2 separate regions of the Homo sapiens genome follow, and region 2 is linked to region 1. The links come from fine-mapping of genetic effects on gene expression. A gene starts in region 1. The other region holds a variant in brackets. All regions are shown on one strand. Distances are from middle to middle. Region 1 holds the start of CLCN1 (chloride voltage-gated channel 1). Region 2 overlaps CLCN1 (chloride voltage-gated channel 1).

What was found.
Region 2: its variant is fine-mapped to the expression of CLCN1 in whole blood (INTERVAL, PIP 0.98).

Annotation. Positions count from the first base shown.
Region 1 is chr7:143,308,453-143,319,956 of GRCh38, reverse strand. CLCN1 (chloride voltage-gated channel 1) reads right to left here and starts at 3,846. Exons shown (of 23, transcript NM_000083.3): 1 at 3,565-3,846; 2 at 82-202. The coding sequence starts at 3,744. It also overlaps the pseudogene HINT1P1.
Region 2 is chr7:143,342,732-143,350,781 of GRCh38, reverse strand. It overlaps CLCN1 (chloride voltage-gated channel 1), which reads right to left. Exons shown (of 23, transcript NM_000083.3): 17 at 5,020-5,261; 18 at 4,531-4,642; 19 at 4,124-4,203; 20 at 3,833-3,871; 21 at 306-410; 22 at 128-214. Among named protein-coding and RNA genes, the nearest start is that of FAM131B-AS1, 15 kb to the left of the region's middle. RefSeq lists silencers at 5,186-5,265, 5,072-5,366. The variant A/G (reference allele first, on the strand shown) is at 3,936.

The DNA of each region.
Region 1 (11,504 bases):
TGCAATGGGATGCCCAAGTTATTCTCCTAATCCCTGTACCTGTTTCTACTCCAGATTTCTTTATTCCTCAGTCCCCATCACCTTGACATTTAGAATAGTGATCCTCATCCTTGCTGTCCACGGTAGAACTGGAGCCTGTCTTCTTGGGCATCCCTATGTCCTGCTCCCTGTCTGAGAATTGTTCTTTGTGATGGCCATAAATCTGGACAGAGAGAGAATGATCAGTGTCTGCCTTGTGGAAGACTAAAAAAATAATAGACAGAGGCCAGCAGACAGACTCACAGAAGAAAAGAACAACAGCTTTTTGAATTCTGGGTGTTGACTGCATGCAGGGTGACTTTGTGGTCATCCCTGCCCTCTACTCTCCACCCTCCATTCCCACACTTCCCACCCTTTCCCTTGTTCATTCATCCTACCTTCTCTACACCCATTCTCCAACCTGTACTCACCTTGATCCAGGGTAGCCTTTATCAAGGAGGCCAGTTTTTGCTTTGAAGCAGAGGTACAGAACTGTGCTGAACCCAGGTGGCCATATCAATCAGGTGTTTTGTGTCACTGCGCTTTCTGTATGTCCCACAATTTCCCCAGACCACTTGCATTGACTTTTCTCCTAACATGAACAGGGTGAGGACAGACTGGGCTAACTAGCAGGGCAGTCTTGGTTGCACTTTGCCTTGGTGTGTCTAGCCTTACCTGAGGCACCTCAGGTCCTCTATCAAGCTTCAAGACCATCCACTTCATCTCCCAGTGCTTGTATGCACACACAAGAACTAGCCCGAAAAGGCAGGTCCATCTACTTCTTCCCACAGCTAGATAATTAGACCCCTACCTGCCCCACATGTGAAGAGGACAGAGCAGCTCCCCCAGGTCTGGTGGCCCTCCGCTTCCATCCTGAGGCAGAGCACGTGTGTCTGTGTGGGGTATACAAGAGCTCCAACCACTTTTAGCCTGCCCCACTCCCACTACACTAACTGTCCTCTGGGGCCAGGGTCAGGCCAGGCCATGTTGCTGGATTCTGGGAGAGCCTGAGTAGAAGAGATCTGATTTCACAATATGAGCAGCATTTTACACCGCAGTCCTGAACAAGCACGCACATGAATTGCCCTGCTCATGGCTGTTTGTCTTCTGGGTCAGTGACCGAGGGAGGCAGTGTTTCCTTCCAAACCCTGCGTGGGACCCAGAGAGAGAACATACTTCCCAGTGGAAGTCAGACAGCTGAGGCTGTCTCAGCTCCTCAAGGCCCCAGGCCAGTGGAGACAAGGAAGGGGGTTGCTTCATATCATCATACCTGGGCTGGGAAAACACTTAAAGGGCCAGATCTGTTCTGGCTGGTCCCATGCAGGGCAGGGTGAGGGGAGGGCAAGGGAGAAGTCAAAACTCAAGTCTACAAGTGATACAATGTCTGGGATTTGTTAAAAAGTATTCCAAGGTGGAAGCAAGGCTCAGTGGCTCACCCCTGTAACCCCAGCACTTTAGGAGCCTGAGATGGGCAGGTTACCTGAGGTCAGGAGATCAAGACCAGCCTGACCAACATGGAGAAACCTCGTCTCTACTAAAAATACAAAAATTAGCCAGGCATGGTGGCGCATGCCTGTAATCTCAGCTACCTGGGAGGCGGAGGCAGGAGAATTGCTTGAACCAGGGAGGCGGAGATTGCGGTGAGCTGAGATCGCGCCATTGCATTCCAGCCTGGGCAACAAGAGCGAAACTCCATCTCAAAAACAAAAAACAAAAAACAAAAAACAAAAAAAAAGTATTCCATGGTGTGTAGAGTGGTGAGGGTGGGGAAGGGAAGAATAGATGGAACAATAGTGACAAAATATTGACAACTGGTGGGTACTTGGGGCTTCACTATACCATTCCATTTTTGTGTAAGTCTTCCATAATAAAAATTAAACAAAGAAAAACTAATCCAAACTCTTGTTTACTTTTGAGACCTGTAGAAAACAGGCCAATTCTACTCCCCAAACTAACCATAGCTTCCCAACACGAGAACTGTCATCAGGAAGTGCCATAATGGCACTGTTACTCAAGTTGCCATCCCACCCAGATACAACCATGTACACGAGTGAGAACACAGGGCCAGGGGGAGGGGTCTTCCCTCCTGCTGATCCCACACAGTGTTCAAAGGCCTAGTCAGACCCCGCTGTCTCCAAGAAACCTTCCCAATGCTCGATTCCAGCCTACACTGACCTGTATGTCCCTCTTCCCTACTGGGTCCCTAGCGCTGCCTTTGCAAATACTCCTGGGGGTTGGTCAGGGACTGAGAGCAGATCCTTTTGACCCCCAGTGCTGAGATCCCCTGCATAGCTCATGCCTCAGCTTCCCAGCCTTAAACCTAAAGGAACTGAAGGCTCCCTGTTAAAAAAAAAAAAAAGAAAGAAAAAAAAGCCTTTTAAGTTCTGACCAGACTGGGCACAGTGGTTAACACCTGTAATTCCAGCACTTTGGGAGGCCAAGGCGGGTGAATTACCTGAGGTCAGGAGTTCGAGACAGCCTGGCCAACATGGCAAAACCCCGTCTCTACTGAAAGTACAAAAATTTGCCAGGTATGGTGGCAGGTGCTTGTAATCCCAGCTACTCAGGAGGCTGAGGAAAGAGAATTGCTTGAACCCGGGAGGCGGAGGTCGCAGTGAGCCAAGATAGCACCACTGCACTCCAGCCTGGGAGACAGAGCGAGACTCCATCTCAAAAAAAAAAAAAAAAAAAAAAGTTCTGGCCAACTGCCCTCTAGACAAATTCTATCCTCTGTTATTCTCTGCATTCTTTGGAGGGAGAGGCACACTTACTTATTAACCATGACCTATCTTTTTCCATGACAATTTCACAACCTTTCCTTTAGTTGTGCCCATCCCCATTCCCCCTTTCCTAGGTGTTCATATCCCACCAATCCCACAGCGGGAGGCTGCTCATCCATAGACACTCCTAATTAGCCTGCATGCTTCTGTTGCTGGGATCACATCTCTGCCCTTTTCCAGGTGCCTAACACTTAATAGGTTCTTACTTGATCATCTTGCGACCTAAAAGCTTGTACATCTCTGCTCATTTTGACGTTGGTAGATCTTTGATCACTGATAAGCAATTCAGTCTGTTTTCTACACTTGCCCAATTCCTTTCTTCTGCCTTCTGCAGAAAGATTCATGTTTGTGTGTATTCTGCAGAGGGTCCCAGAGGCAGAAATCTGGCAGTGTCTACCTGTGGGTGAGGGTGTGGGAGACAGCTCCCAGCACACTGCAGTGTGGGCTCCTACGCAATCCACTCCACGTAGGTTATGTAAGCACGAGCTATTCATGCATGTGAGGCTCTGCTGTTTCCCCATATGATTTGGGTACTCTGTTGGTAAAGGTTGTATGAAAGTGCATGCATATCTCTCTAAGTGCATACTTAAGTGAGCCCAGACTTTCAAAGATTTTCATATTTTGAACACATCACCACGTACTTGTTTTTTAAGTTAAAAAAATGTAACACTGCTCCCTCTTTTCACCCAATTCCTCATTTTCACCAGTCTCTGGCACCACTGTCTCCCCTCATCCATGGCTCCCCTCTCCCCTTAGAGCACTTTACCTGTGTGGGGTGGACGTTGTGGCGGGGGCCTGCATCCTTCCGGAGCCTGTGCTGGAGGCCCCCATTCTCAGAGGGCAGTCCGTAGCTGGTGCAGTGTTCAAAGGGCATATACTGGTACTGGGGGTCACTACCCCACCAGCTTTGTTCACCCCCACGCTGCTGTGACCGGGATTGCTCCATATTCCCTCCCCCCGAGCCCCGGCCAGGCCTTGGCCTGCTTGCCCCTGTCCTTCCCCCAGTGTAGCTCCTTAAGCCTCTGCTCTTGCTGTCCCCAAGGCGTCTGGGGCAGCATGCCCACCTCCAGCTATTTATAGACCCCTCTCCGTCACATGACCCCCCACTGCCACATCTGATCTGCTTGGGGTCGAAGCAGGTGTGAGTGCAGTGTGGGGGTGGGGGTTGGGATGAGAACCTGAGGGACAGCCCCACAGGGAATTCCCTCTGCTGAGCCAGTGGCATTGTCCCCCTTCTTAGTCACCAGTAGTAGGCTTCCAGCTCCATGTCACTGGTCCCTCTATAAATATCGCCTGGACCAGGATGAGAAACTGCTGAGTATGCTCTCAAACCTATGTGTAGAGCCGGATCTGCATGGAAGCCCTCCAGTTGCCCATCTCTCTTCTTCAGGATGCGGAAGGTGAGGGGTGGGTGCTGGATAAAGATGAAGCGACTCGAAGTTCTGGAAACACTGGCACATTAACTCACCTGGGAAAGTAACTGGTGCCTCTCTGCCACATCTCCTGGCCAGCTTGTTCCCAACTCTGTGTCCACCCAGGGTTCTGTCTGGCCAGCTCTGCCAGCCCATCCCATGTCCAGCGTTCTTCTCTAGCTCTTTGCCCTTCTGTCTGCCAGAGGCTGCTAATAACAGCTTGGGGGCATCCCCTGATCCCATCCTTATCACTCACTGGGTGTGGAACACTTATGGGAAGTGGGAAGTCGAGGGTCGGTAATAGCCTTGGGTTCTAGAATTTCTCCCACTTCCCAGACTGTTAGGTGTCAGCCACACTGCCAACCCGGAGGGACTGAGCTTCCATTTGGACTGTGGAGTGCCCACACTGGCTCCATCAGATAGATAACAAGGGAGATAACAGGGGAGAATCGAAAGTAGAAAGAGGCACAGGGAAGGGAGAGGTGGGAAAGGGGTGAGGGCTTCTCATGACAAGCCCGACAAACATGAAAGATGATGGGGAAGTGCTCTCTGCTATTCTTCCCTTTTCAGGTCAATAAATACTTTTTTGGCCAAGGACAAACTTTTCTTCCTGGCATCACGTTATAAAACCAATTTTCCTATGACATGTCTTCCCTATGAACTCTTCACTGTAGGAGAAAAGATATGAACTGAGCCAAAGTAAAGTTTAGGATGCATTACCAAGTGGGGTCTGTCCCAGGACAGTCCAAGTTCAGGGACTGCAGGGTAGGGACACCAAACATCTGGTCTACAATGTGATTTTGACCTAGGCTAAATGGAACCACCCAAAGCAGGAGGGAAGCCAATATCATTAAAAGTACTTTTTCTAGGGCCTCAACATCATTAATCATCAGGAAACCAAAATCATAATGCAATATCGCCTCATACCTGTTAGGATGGCTATTATCAAAAAAGCAAGAGATAGCCATTATTATGGCTATGGATATTATGGTTCATGCTTATAATCCCAGCAATGTGGGTGACCAAGGCGGGTGGAATGCTTAAGCCCAGCAGTTCGAGACCAACCTGGCAACATGGGGAGACCCTGTCTCTATAAAAATTATAAAAATCAGCCATGTGTGGTGGTGCACGCCTGTAGTCCCAGCTACTTGGGAGGCTGAGACAGGAGGATCACTGAAGCCCGGGAGGTGGAGGCTGCAGTGAGCTGGGAAGGCACCACTGCAATCCATCCTGGTCTACAGAGTGAGATTATGTCTCAAAAAAAAATTAAATAAAAAGATGAGATAAATGTTAGTGAGAATGCAGAGAAAAGGGAACCCTTGTGCACTGTTGGTGGGAATGTAAACTGGTATAGTCATTATGAAAAACAGTATAAAAGTTCCTCAAAAGGTAAAAACAGAACTGCCATATGACTCAGCAACTCCCATACATCCAAGGGAAAGGAAATCAGTATCTCAAAGAGGTATCTGCACTCCCATGTTCATTACAGCATTATTCACAATAGCCTAGAAATGGAAACAACCTAAGTGTCCACTAACAGATGAATAATGTCATGTGTATATAAATATATATAATGGAATACTATTCAACCCTGACAAAGAAGAAAATCCTGCCACTTGTGACAACATGGATGAACTTGGAGGACATTACGCTAAGTCAAACATTGCAGACACAGAAAGAAAAATACTGCATGATTGCACTTGTATGTGGAATCTAAAATAGTCAAACTCATAGAAGCAGAAAGTAGAGGGTAGTTGCCAGGGGCTGGGCTGGAGTAGGGGGTGGGAGAATGGGGAAATTTGGTCAAAGGATACAAGGTTCACTTATACAAGATGAGAAAGTCCTGGAGATCTAATGTGCATGGTAACTATAGGTAGTAATACCACATACTTGAAATTTGCTAAGAGGGTAGATCTTGAATGTTCTCACCTCCCTGCACCCCCAAAGCAACTATGTGAGGTGATGGATATGTTAACCGGCTTGATTGTGATGATCATTCACAATGTACACATATATCAACACATCAAGTTGTACATTGTTGGAGGCCGCACAAATGTTTCTTATGATTAGGTACAATTGAAGCTTGTCAGTAACAATATGAACCTGTGATCAATTCAGCAGCTGACCAATCGTTACCTCCTTCTTGTTCTTGTTACCCAGTAAATATGAAGGGCTGAGAAGCTCGGCAGGGGAGCTGCCTTTGCTCACTAGAAGCAGGGAGCTCTCTTCTTCTTCATGTTGCCTTTCCTTAAAACAGTTTCTTTTGTCTTAAGTTTTCATTTCTACATTCGTCCCTTTGTTCGGTCATAATGATGGTTTCAAGTGGTAACAGTAGTAACTGCTGTAATCACGGTCTCAAGTAGTAATTAAATATGTATAATTTCTAGTTGTCAATTATACACCAATGTAGCTAAAAAAAAAAAAAAACAAAACACCTGCTCTAACAACAATCCTACAAACCTCAAGGCCTATAATCTCTCCAAAAAATTACAAATGTGTGATGAATTGAGAGACTAAACATTCTGTGATGATACCCACCTTTTCTGCAGGCAGAAAATAAGGATAGACATCTATGGGATTGGTATGAGCAGAAAGGATTACTTTCTTAACAAAGAAAATAGAATCTGTGGGTTCCTCCCTCCTTCTGAGCCTCTACCCTGCCTGCTGTGTGGGAGACAGGCAGAGATGGCAGGTGAGATCGCCAAGGCTCAGGTCGCTCGGCCTGGTGGCAACACTGTCTTCGGGAAGATCATCTGCAAGGAAATCCCAGCCAAAATCATTTTTGAGGATGACCAGTGCCTTGCTTTCCATGACACTTCCCCTCAAGCACCAACACGTTTTCTGTTGATATCGAAAAAACATATATCCCAGATTTCTGCAGCAGAAGATAATGACGAAAGTCTTCTTGGACACTTAATGATTGTTGGCAAGAAATGTGCTGCTGATTTGGGCCTGAATAAGGGTTATCAAATGGTGGTGAATAAAGGTTCAGATGGTGGACAGTCTGTCTGTCAAGTTCATCTCCATGTTCTTGGAGGTTGGCAGATGCATTGGCCTCCTGGTTAAGCACATTTTGGTGATAATTTTCCCTTCTCTGGGCAATGATTAAGTTAGGCAAGTTCCAGTATGTTAAGTAGCACACTTATTTTTTGCCTGTGTATGGAGAGATTCAAGAAATAATTTTAAAACCGCATACATAATAAAAGACATTGTTGCACACACAAAAAAATAGAGTGCCAAGGTAACACTGCATTCCTTGGAGGACTTCAGAAACAAGATTCTCCCATTTGAGGAGTATAGCTTTCCTGAAAGTGATCAGTTGCTGTAGAAACTTGATAAATATAAGCAGCAAGATATGAGATACAATTATGACTTTCTTACTATTTCTGAGAAAGACAGGGCCCTAAAACAGAGCAGCCTAGTCATGGACTCTGAGATTTGAAGGCAGAGACCAGTGGAGTAGGGAAGTGCTCACATCCAGCCAAGCTGAGTGGAAGCGTGTGGTCTAGAAGGAAAGCACCAACTGCGATTCTTAAAACCAGATTCTGAAATTAGGAGGGTCAAAGACATGTACAGACTGCCAGTGCTGGTGGGCAAGGGTTTGAGAGTAAATATCCTGTGTTTGAAATTAGGAATAGTTTAAATCCCATGGGTTTAAATCCCTGCAAGAGAACAAGAAAAGAAAATGTAAACCATGCCCACTCCTCACTCCATCATCCCGCTGGGCTTAGTAGCTTAGGTTCTTATTTGGAGGCACAAAGATGGGCTTCTAGGGATTCCTGTAAGGCTCCTGAATGTGGAAGCAAATTCATAAGCATGCATAAATGATATATATTCTTTCGGGTTTTATTTATTTTATTTATTTATTTTTTGAGATGGTGTCTCACTGTCACCCAGGCTGGAGTGCAATGGCGCGATCTCTGCTCACTGCAACCTCCGTCTCCCGGGTTTGAGCGATTCTGTCACCTCAGCCTCCCGAGTAGCTGGGATTACAGGCACTTACGGTCATGCCCGGCTAATTTTTGTATTTTTGTAGAGATGGGTTTCTCACCATGTTGGCCAGGCTGGTCTTGAACTCCTGACCTCAGGTAATCTGCCCGCTTTGGCCTCCCAAAGTGTTGGGATTACAGGTGTAAGCCACTGCACCCGGCCTCTTTTGGGGTTTTAAATAGATCATCCTAGGGTCCATTATACAAAAAGTTTAAAAGCCCATAGGCTTATAGAATTGCTATTTGAAGGAAAATCGTAAAAAGTTGCCATGCAAGATACATGGAGGAGAAGTTTTGTGTTGGGTATAGGTGAAAGAATTTTCTTTCTGGGTTACACCCTTGTTTTCAGACTCTCACGTCTTCCAGTCTGGCCTCCCCAGCATAGTGGGCAGTAAAACCCTTATGTTCTTTAAAGGTGTTTTCAGTCATCACTTTCCCTCTGCATATCCAGGCAGCCATGGAACCCGTGGCCACCTACTTTCTGAAATTTCAGCTAAGCTACAACTTCCTCTGAAGACACTTTGTATTGTATGCCACTGGCGGTCATGTCTCCTCTCCTCTTTATTGTGGCTTGCCTCCTTATTCTTTTTTATTTTTTTTTTTTGAGACGGAGTCTCGCTCTGTCGCCCAGGCTGGAGTGCAGTGGCGCGATCTCGGCTCACTGCAAGCTCCGCCTCCCGGGTTCACGCCATTCTCCTGCCTCAGCCTCCGGAGTAGCTGGGACTACAGGCGCCCGCCACCACGCCCAGCTAATTTTTTGTATGTTTTAGTAGAGATGGGGTTTCACCGTGTTAGTCAGGATGGTCTAGATCTCCTGACCTCATGATCCGCCCGCCTCGGACTCCCAAAGTGCTGGGATTACAGGCGTGAGCCACCACGCCCAGCCAGCCTCCTTATTCTTTAAGCATCCTTAGTCCTTTCCCATCCCCTGCACGTCAGGCTTTCCCTGTAGTATTCGACAGGTCTCCTTCTCCCCCTTCTGGCTTTTCAAACATGATACATTTTCCCCCAAACTCCTACCTAATTAGGACTTAAGATGGAATAAGGTTTGGGTCTCAGTTTCATTCCCACAGCCCAATGGGAGGAATCTTACAGCCCAAAAAAAGGAAGAAAAAAATCCTTCATGCCAGAATAAGTCACAGAAGCAAGGCTGTTAGCATACGCTCAAACTGACAGCTTTGGTTTCACATCCTGACCTCAGTTTCCTCAGAAAGGAAGTAACTAGAGGGTTAAGAAGATAAAATAACACATGCAAAAAAACATGCTATAGGCTGGGTGCGGTGGCTCACACCTGTAATCTCAGCACTTTGGGAGGCCAAGGTGGGTGGATAACGAGGTCAAGAGATTGAGACCATCCTGGCCAACATGGTGAAATCCCGTCTGTGCTTAAAATACAAAAATTAGCTGGGCGTGGTGGCGTGCGCCTGTAATCCCAGCTACTCGGGAGGCTGAGGTAGGAGAATCACTTGAACCCGGGAGACGGAGATTGCAGTGAGCCGAGATCACACCACTGCACTCCAGCCTCACGACAGAGTGAGACCCCATCTCAAAACAAAACAAAAATGTGCTATAGTGTTTGATTCATAGTAAGAACTGTTCACTCATATTAAACTGAAGCTCATTCTGTGAGTTAACATTTATCAAGCATTTTTTATGCATTAACACCATGTGATTTACATGCATCATCACATTTAATCCTCATAGGGACATTGGAAGGTAGACACAATTTTCCTCATTTTCAAATAAGGGAAATTGGGGCTGTGTTAGCTACCTTGATCAAGGTCTCCAATATCTTCAAAGGCAGAGCCGGCATTCAAAATCAGATCTACTGAATTCTAGAGTCCATACCGTTAAAGCTACATTTGTGGCCAGGCGCGGTGGCTCACTCACGCCTATAATCCCAGCACTTTGGGAGGCTGAGGTGGGTGAATCACCTGAGCTCAGGAGTTCAAGACCAGCCTGGGCAACATGGTGAAATCCCATCTCTACTAAAAATACAAAAATTAGCTGGGTGTGGTGGCGTGTGCCTGTAATCACAGCTACTCGGGAGGCTGAGACAGGAGAATCGCTTGAACCTGGGAGGCAGACGTTGCAGTGAGCTGAGATCACGCCATTGTACTCCAGCCTGGGCAACAACAGCAAAATTGTTTCAAAAACAAAAGGGAAAATGACTCCTTCACAGAAGCATGGGGAAGATGAAATGGAAAGCTCCTCTCAATGCCTACAACATACCAAGGACTCAAACAGTTGTAGCTATTATTAATGTCTTCCTCCTTCTCAGATTAGACGTCTTTCCTCTTGTGTTGTGTGTGTGTTTTTTTTTTTTTTTTTTTAAAGATGGGGGTCTCACTATGTTGCCTAGGCTGGTTTTCAACTCCTGGGCTCAAGCAATCCTCTCTCCTTAGCCTCTTGAGTAGCTGGTACTATACGTATGTGTTACTGTGCCTGGCCTCATTCTTTATTTTTTAGAGACGGGGTTTTGCCATTTTGCCCAGGCTGGTCCCAAACTCTTGAGCCCAGGTGATCCACCTGCCTCAGCTTCCCAAAGTGCTGGGATTACAGGCATGAGCCACTGCGCCCGGCCAGTCTGGCACCATTCTTAATATCACAGCTTTGGTTGGGTGTGGTGGCTCATGTCTGTGATCCCAGTACTCTGGGAGGCCGAGGTAGGAGGATCACTTGAACCCAGATGTTTGAAACCAGTGTGAACAACATAGTGAGACCTCATCTCTATTTTATAGAATAAAATTTTAAAAATTAAAAAAAAATCAGCTTTGGTCTGATATTACAGTTTTTCCTTCTTCCTGTTTTCCTTTTCCCTATTAGAGGAAACAGGATGGAGGAGGGCAGCAGAGGGCAGCCCCCAGCTCTGGGAGGGGAATAATTTTAGAAGAGAATCCTCTGGCAGAGGTAAGCAGAAGGGAGCAGAGCTGTGAAATTCAACCTCATACCCTTATTCAAGGGCAAGGGGGTTGGGGGGCGGGGAGGACATGGAATCCAGTTCAGAGATACTGCTCTGTAATTCTCAAACATATCACACCACTGAAAATGCTTCCTATCCTGAAAATGGGTATTTATCTTACTTCCACTATTTCCATAATTTCTTCGCCTGTCCTAGATTTTGTATCCTTCCCTTGAGGCTATCCCATGGTTGTTTTTCTTGCAGTACAACCAACCAGTTTCAGTCCATTTTTCATGCCCTTTTGTCTCCAGTGTTCTGTACCAAATTCTGCTCTATCTGCCGAGGTGCTTCAGCTCACCTCAATCCCCTTCTGCTCTTCCTAGACTGCCATACCCTTCTCTGT
Region 2 (8,050 bases), 33 kb before region 1:
AGAAAGAAATAGAGAAGGGAATCTGAGGGGACTTCTGAGATGCTAATATTCCTTCTGTCCCCACTGCATCCCCTTATCCTATGCCCAGCCTCCCTCCTGCTGCTCAAATGGGACACATCGTGATTACCTCCTCCAGGGCCAGGACGCCCCTGAGCTTCCCCATGCTGGTCACGTAAGCGAGGTGGAGGCCAAGGAGTGAAAACAGGGTATGAGTCTGAGGATGAAGAGCACAGGTCAGTGCATGTTCCTTGCCCCACAGCTCTCCTGCCTTCCCCACAGCCCTGAGCAGTCAGCAAAAGACTCACCTTGTGCAGGGTTGTCTGCTCCACCAGCTGGAAGGGAGACTGGTCAATACAGCAGGAATCAAAACAGACAGGCTGGCTCAGCTGCTCCTGCTCCCAGGCCTCAATCTGTCAGCCAGAGGAGGAAAGTCACGAAAATCACAGAGCCTCCTTTCACCCCAGATACCTGATTTTGACCCCAAACGGCCCTCCTAGCCGCTGCCCAGAATCTGGGAACATGCAAGAACTGATCATAGATCCCCCAGATCAGAGGACCTCCTCCTTCTTCCCAGGGGACAGAGCCTCTCTGCCCTTCCTCATCAGGCCCCCAACCTACCCTGCAACCCCCAGGTACCCAGAACACCCCTCCCTCTTCTAGGCTCCAACTCTCCTATCCCCTGGCGTCCCAAACATTTGTTATTCCCAACCTATCTTTCCCATCTATTTTCCACTACTACTATAAGACGTGGGGCTCCAATCAAACCAGACTGCTTTCTGCTCTTCAAACATGCCTTCCCCTTTGTCTTTGCTATTCTGACCATCTGGAGTTCCTTTACCTGCCCTACCCTCTCCCTGCAGTGTACGTATTTCCTGACTCTCCCAATCAGATGTGCTTCTCCCCTTTTTTATTCCCATAGTATTAGCTGGTCTCACCTTTTCAGAAATGACATTGGCCATACTTCCTGCTGTATTGGCATCTGTCTTACCTCTGCATTTGTCTTGAGTGTTATGTGGTATCGGCTGCTGTATATTGTGAAGAAACTAGCACATCACCTCTCATGCAGGGAACTGTAGTGGGTACTTGTTGAAATTGAAGAGCTATACTGGACCTCATGGCACTTAGCTGACTTGAGCAAAGCCAGTTTTTGTTTGTTTGTTTTTGTCTATGACAGAAGCATTAAGGCACAAAGGCCAACCATCCTCTTGACTTTAGATACGCACACCAAAATTCCCAAGAGTCCAAATAATCCATTACATCTCTGGCTCTCTTACATTTTTCTAAAATTTCTAAAATCTCTTTTCAGTCAGTATCCTCTGAATGATCTAGAACTCTATTTTCCTATTTGTCCAAATCTACACCTCTCAAACTTCAGAGAATATCACCAAAGGGCATTATATAGGTTTAGGATCTGGTGTGTAGCCCGTAGTGATGCTCACTCCACCTGTCCTGTCCTGATATTTCTGGATTACAATCATGACTCCTCTATACTCTCATCTTCCGGACTAATGGATTACAGAGGTTACATAGCATAGGATGGATGACCACTTAGCAGGTGTGTTGTAGAGAAGATTTAGGTATAGGACGGGGGCTAGACCTTGCCAACCATGGTTTGGTCCATCCCGTCCTCTTGGTCTTTTCTATGATCATCTGTGGCCTTATGTTCCGTTTTTGCCTTTCCTTAACAATAACGCGGCAACATTTTCAGTGAATGATTATCAAGTACATCCTCTTTGCCAAGCATTATTCTAATTGACTTACCCGTCTTAGCTCATTTAATCTTCTCTAATAACTCTATCATTATCTTCACTTTATAGATGAGGAAACAGAGGCACAGCATGTTGAAGTCATTTGCCCAGGATTACACAGTCAGTAATTGGTGGAGCTGGGCTTCTAACCTTGACTGCTGTTTGTATTCCAGGTACATCTCCAGCTTTTGCGCAAGGGATGCAGGACGTTGCTGTTGAGGCTGGTGTGTTCCACTACTTGAATAAGCTCGGTACCGGTTAGAAACAGAGCTCTGTGTGTACTCCAGAGTATGCAGAATTAAACAAATCCTAGTAGGGACTTCTGGCAACATATAATTGAATCTTTCAATATTCCCATACTGCCCCCATACTGTTTTTTTGGTCAATATCAACATCTTGATATTGTCAAGGGTATCATCTGGTCTGAAAATTGTGTTCAAAACATCCTGAATTTCAACTCCTGTTAGATCTTATCCCTCTAAAATGTCTCAGTGGGTCACATGGGAGTTGGTAGCTCCTTAAAGTCTTCCCTGGGAAAGACATAAGCTAGAAATGATAGTCTATCTTATTTTTAATCCCTGGCTTCACTTTATTTCCAGTGGTCATTCAATAGCCACACTGATCAACTAGCTGGTTTTCTCTCTTTGGTGCATTAAATTAAAAAAAAGAAAAAAAGCAAAACTTATTGTTATTGGTTTTAGCAACCTAACAAAGTACTCCTTAACTGCAATTATGGCCTTTCTGATTCCTGCTTGTGGGCAGAAGGAATAGTTCTTCCTTTCCCTCTGTGATCATCGATTTGACTTTTTCACAAGTCATTTATCAGAAGTGTGTGTGTTTTGAGGGGGTGGGGAAGGTTTCTCTTCTGTCTTGTCACTCACAACATCCTCCTCCAATCCTGTAATGCTTTTCATTGTCAGCACATATTTATTCTGGATATCCAATAAGATGTTCATTTAAAAATAATATCTGCCGTGTTTTTTTTGTCAGCTTCATACTTTACAAGCTTTACGTTTTCGGCGTTTGCAGCAAACTCTGCATTCTTTTACCATATGGAATAGTTGCCAATGGATTTTTCTGTTGATGTTCCTCCACAACCCCTCGGTATGTTCTGATACCGCCTGCTTCCAATCACTAGTCCACATTCTGTTCCCTCCTGACAACCAAGCACATTCAGAATGCTTGATTTTTCTCTCTTGAAGATTTGATAACCACCTCGTTTAGGAAAATAGGCATTTGTTTGTCCCCAGGAGGCACCGTGGTCATTATTTTCTTCCTTTTTCAGTTCTTCCCAGTAGCAATGCCTAGCATTTTCCAGTTGTTCACTGTCTCAGGGCCCTGATCAATCCAGCACAGTAATCTCCACCAGGAGCAGATTTCTCCATTTTAGTTTTTTTTTTTTTTTTTTTTTTTGAGGCAAAGTCTGGATCTGTCACCCAGGCTGGAGTGCAGTGGTGCAGTCTCTGCTCACTGCAACCCCCACCTCCCGGGTTCAAGTGATTTTCGTGCCTCAGCCTCCCAAATATCTGGGATTACAGGTGCGTGCCACCATGCCCGGCTTATTTTTGTATTTTTAGTAGAAATGGAGTTTCACCACGTTGGCCAGGCTGGTCTCAAACTCCTGACCTCAGGTGATCTGCCTGCCTTGGCCTCCCAAAGTGCTGGAATTACAGGCATGAGCCACCATGCCCGGCCTCCCATTTTAGTTTTGATGTTCTTCTTCTATGTTGCTGTTTTAGTGCCAGCCTCCTGGTGCCATTTTACCTCCATTAAAGCTTTGCCTGATCCAGAAAGCCCATAATCTCTAAAAGATCTGGGGCTCATCTTAGCACCATGGCCCCATTTACTCATGGAGGCTCAAAGTTTTTCTCTTCTGAAATGACGTGTCCTTCTGAGAACACCTCCATGTCCCATCACACACTCATTACTCTCTCCATAATCATCCTTATTTCCATCCTCTCAAAACACTTCCCATCCAGACCACATTCTATTTCATGACAACACAATAAAGAAGGTAGAAACAAATTAGCAATATCTTCATTTGATAGAACAATCCACCCCAGGTTTCCATTTCCCTTACTCACCTCTTCAGGTGACATGTTATCCACTAAATCTGTGGAATCCTAGAGAAGAAAGACATAGGTCCAAGTTCTTTCCCTTTTCTTCCCATGGTAGCTATGGCTCCCA[A/G]TGAAACAATAGCCATCCCTCCCTGGCCAGGACCACCGATGCCTCCTTTTCATTCATCATCCCTTCCATATGATTAAACTCCTCCTCCTTGGTGGGGTCTCTGCCTTCCTGATTTAAGAACCGTGGGTTTCTCACTCTTCAAGGGCAGGCTCCCTTTCCCCTGTATCCCCAAACACATCTCCTCTCACCTGGGTTGTTTTCTTCTTTGTGGGGCGAGCTCTGCCCAGCAAGCAGTGAAGCAGGGACTGGAAGATGGAGGGTCTTTGACCTGAGAGGACAGGTGAGTGGATGGAAATGGACACAAAGCAACAGGAAACGGCCAGGGGCCCCACCCAGTGCCTAACATTTGCCTCCAAAGAGCTGCACTTCCCAGGTACCTCACCCTCTCTTCTACCCTCCTAAATCACCCTCTGCTCCCACTCCCTGGGACAGTAACAAGGAGAATTGATGAATAAGAACCCTGTCCTCCCTCAATCCCCCAGCCTCACCCCCCACCCCACCCCGCATAGGAATTGCATGCAGGTCAAGGTCAGGTCCTAGTGACCAGAGAGAACCCACAAGGGGTGAGTTGGGGTGCATGAGGGAAGAGCGTCACCTGCAGGCTCTGGTGCTTCCGGCTGCTGTTTGTGGCCAGGCAGAGGCCCATTGGGCTCTTCTGGGGACAGAGGGGCAGTAGTAGAGGGGTGGAGAGCAAGGGAAGGAGGAAGCTGTAAGGAAGAGTAAGAAGTCTCAGCCTGGGAGCAGAGACTGCCTGGGCCTTCACTGCCTTTACCAGTTGGTGGATGTTCTGGGAAAGCGAACTCTATTCTTCCCCCCAGTTCAGAAATTCCTATATCCCTTTGAATTGTCGAGGATACCATCATCTGCAACCTTATCTTCTTTAGTCCCTGGACCCAGAGGCACTGGTCTCTATGGTACCTGATCCAGAATTTCTGGCTTTCTCAGTTACCAGACTCTCCCCTCCCTCTTCCCACTACTTTCAGGGAAACTACGCCTGTCCCAGCCCAGCCCAGCCCAGCCCAGACGACGCTTTTCCCTTTGCTCCTGATCTATCCCACTCCCTAGCCCTTCCCGGCGCGGTCACCTCGCTCTTGCCAGAGAGGTCTTCGTCCTCATCCTCATCCACAAAGGCGAAGGACTCGGGCCGGCCTGGAGGCGCGCCGGGGAGCCCCTCCCCAGCCAGCCGCGCCTTCCCGTCGTAAGGCAGCTCCGACAACTTCCGCGCCATCTCTTGGGCTGCGCGCAGCCTGCGCTCAGGACACAGGTGGCGCTGCAGGAGGGCCTGCAGTTCCGACCGCTCCACCGAGCCCAGCAGGATCATTGAATCTGAGGGAAACCCACGCCCTGCCTGAGCGCCCCCTCCAAGCCCTCTCGCACCACCGCGCTCCGCACTCCTGAGAAGGAACAGGAGAGGCGCCACCCTGCCCGGCGTCCCCACATCTTTCTCAGCTTCCTGGAAACTCATTTTAAGAATCCTCCAAGATTAACCTCACTCAATCCCTTTTATTTCATCCATTTAGCAGGTACGGGGCCAATTGGTAGAGCACTAATTGGGCTAATTTGTACTTATTTTGATGAGGCCTTATATAGACTTCAGATAGGTGAGCTGATAATTAAGGAGGCTAATCAATGCTGTCCAAATAAAAAGAAACATGAGAAGCCATTCAAATAAGCTGAGACGTGAACACGCTTTGAAAGAAGTCTATAAGCAATACAAACATTATATCTCTCCCTGGAAAAAGGGAAACAAGGGAACTCTTTCTTTTGTATCTGACATTTCATCATTTAAAAAACCTGGGCCAGGCGGTGGCTCACGCCTGTAATCCCACTACTTTGGAAGGCCGAGGCAGGCGGGTCGCCTGAGGTCAGGAGTTCGAGACCAGCCTTGGCCAACATGGTGAAACCCCGTCTCTACCAAAAATAAAAAAATTAGCTGGGCGTGGTGGCAGGCGCCTGTAATCCCAGCTACTTGGGAGGCTGAGGCAGGAGAATCGCTTGAACCCGGGAGGCAGAGGTTGCAGTGAGCTGAGATCGCACCACTGCACTCCAACCTGGGCGACAAGAGCGAGATTTCATTAAAAAAAAAAAAAAAAAACCCTGCTAGGATAAATCAAAATGCCTACTTTTCCTGAGAAGGTCTTTTATATGATTATAGAAATTTTGCTACTATAGTTAACATTTTTATTAAGTTTTAAGGCCAAGACATTGCAGCAGTGCTCTGGAGATGAATTTTACTGTTAGGTCTCAGTCATTATTATGAAAACCTTGCCCCTCATTTGTTGGCTGTACCCCTCCTCTAATAAAGAGCCTCTGCTGTAGAACGTGGAATGTATATGAGATTTGGGAAAATATTTGAATTAATTTAATTTGAGAAATTTGGATATTCTGATTATTGGAAATCAGAACTAACAATCTTAATGACTCCAAATGGCCCTACATGATTTTTCTTTATTACACTAATTCAAACACTAGGAAATTATTCATTTAATATCTAGTAGATACCTATAACAAGGCACTCTGGGTATATAGAATTCATAGCCTCTATTCTCAAGGAATGCCCACCTAGTTAGGAAGACAAGATATAGATATATAAACCACAATAAGAAATCATACAAAGCAGGATGAAGTGTCAAATGATGGTGAAGGCAGAGAAATGTGAAATTATCGTTTACTAACAACCATTCACTCCTCCATGTGAAACAGTTCCAGCCGGGCACAGTGGCTCATGCCTGTAATCCCAGCACTTTGGGAGGCCAAGGCTGGTGGATCGCCTGAGGTCAGGAGTTCGAGACCAGCCTGGCCAACATGGTGAAACCCCGTCTCTACTAAAAATACAAAATTAGCTGGGCATGGTGGTGCATTCCTGTAATCCCAGCTACTCAGGAGCCTAAGGCAGGAGAATCACTTAGAACCCAGGAGACAGAGGTTGCAGTGAGCCAAGATGGCGCCATTGCACTCCTGCCTGGGCAACAGAGTGAGGCTCTGTCGAAAAGAAAGAAGAGAAAAGAAAAGAAAAGAGAGAGAGAGAAAGAGAGAGGGAAAGAGGGAGGGAGAGAGAAAGAGAGAGAGAGGGAAAGAGGGAGGGAGAGAGAGAGAAAGAGAAAGAAAGAAAAAGAAGGAAAGAAAGAAAGAGAAAGAAAGGAAGGAAGAAAGAAAACAGTTCCAACTCTTCCATAAGTTGGGCATTAAAGAACAAGCATGACTTATGTAAGCATCAAAATGGAACAACGTAAGAAGCTATGGGATTTACATTAATTGTCATTATTCATGGATTCCCTATTTGTGAATTCAGCTAGTCACTAAAATATATTTGTAACACAAAACCAATACTAGAGGTGCTTTCACTGTAATTCACAAACATGCAAAGAGCAACAAAGATTTTTAGTTGTCCCATGTCCCTGTTCCCAGCTGAAGTTGAACAAAGCAGTGCTGTACCTTCTTGTTTCAGCTTTCACATTGTAAACAGGTGTTCATTTTGTAGTCTATTTAGTGCCATCCTTTTTGCATTTTTGTGCTTTGTGTTGGTGATTTTGCTGCTAAAAATGACCACCAAATATAATGTCAAAGTGCTGTTTACTGTTCCTAGTGCAAGAAGGCTGTGATGAGCCTTATTGAGAAAATATGTGTGTTAAGTAAGCTTAATTCAGGCAAGGGTTATAGTGCTGTTGGCACAAGTTCAATATTAATTAATCCACAATATCTGTGAAATAAGGTGTCTTTACCAGAAACACACATACAACAAGGTCATATATTGATTGGTTGATGGAAATGTGACCAGAGACTCACAGGAACACAGCCCTGTATTTTTCCTAGGAGCAATTATTCAGTATAGTATTTGAACTTCATACTTAATTGAACATAACTACCATGAATTATGAGAATTGACTGTATTTAGTGGGAAATTTTTTTTTTTTTAACAGAGTTTCATTCTTGTTGCCCAGGCTGCAGTGCAATGACACGTTCTCGGCTCATCGCAACCTCCGTCTCCCGGGTTCTAATTACAGGCATGCACCACCACACCTAGCTAATTTTGTATTTTTAGTAGAGACAGGGTTTCTCCATGTTGGTCAGGCTGGTCTCGAACTCCTGACCTCAGGTGATCTGCCCACCTCGGC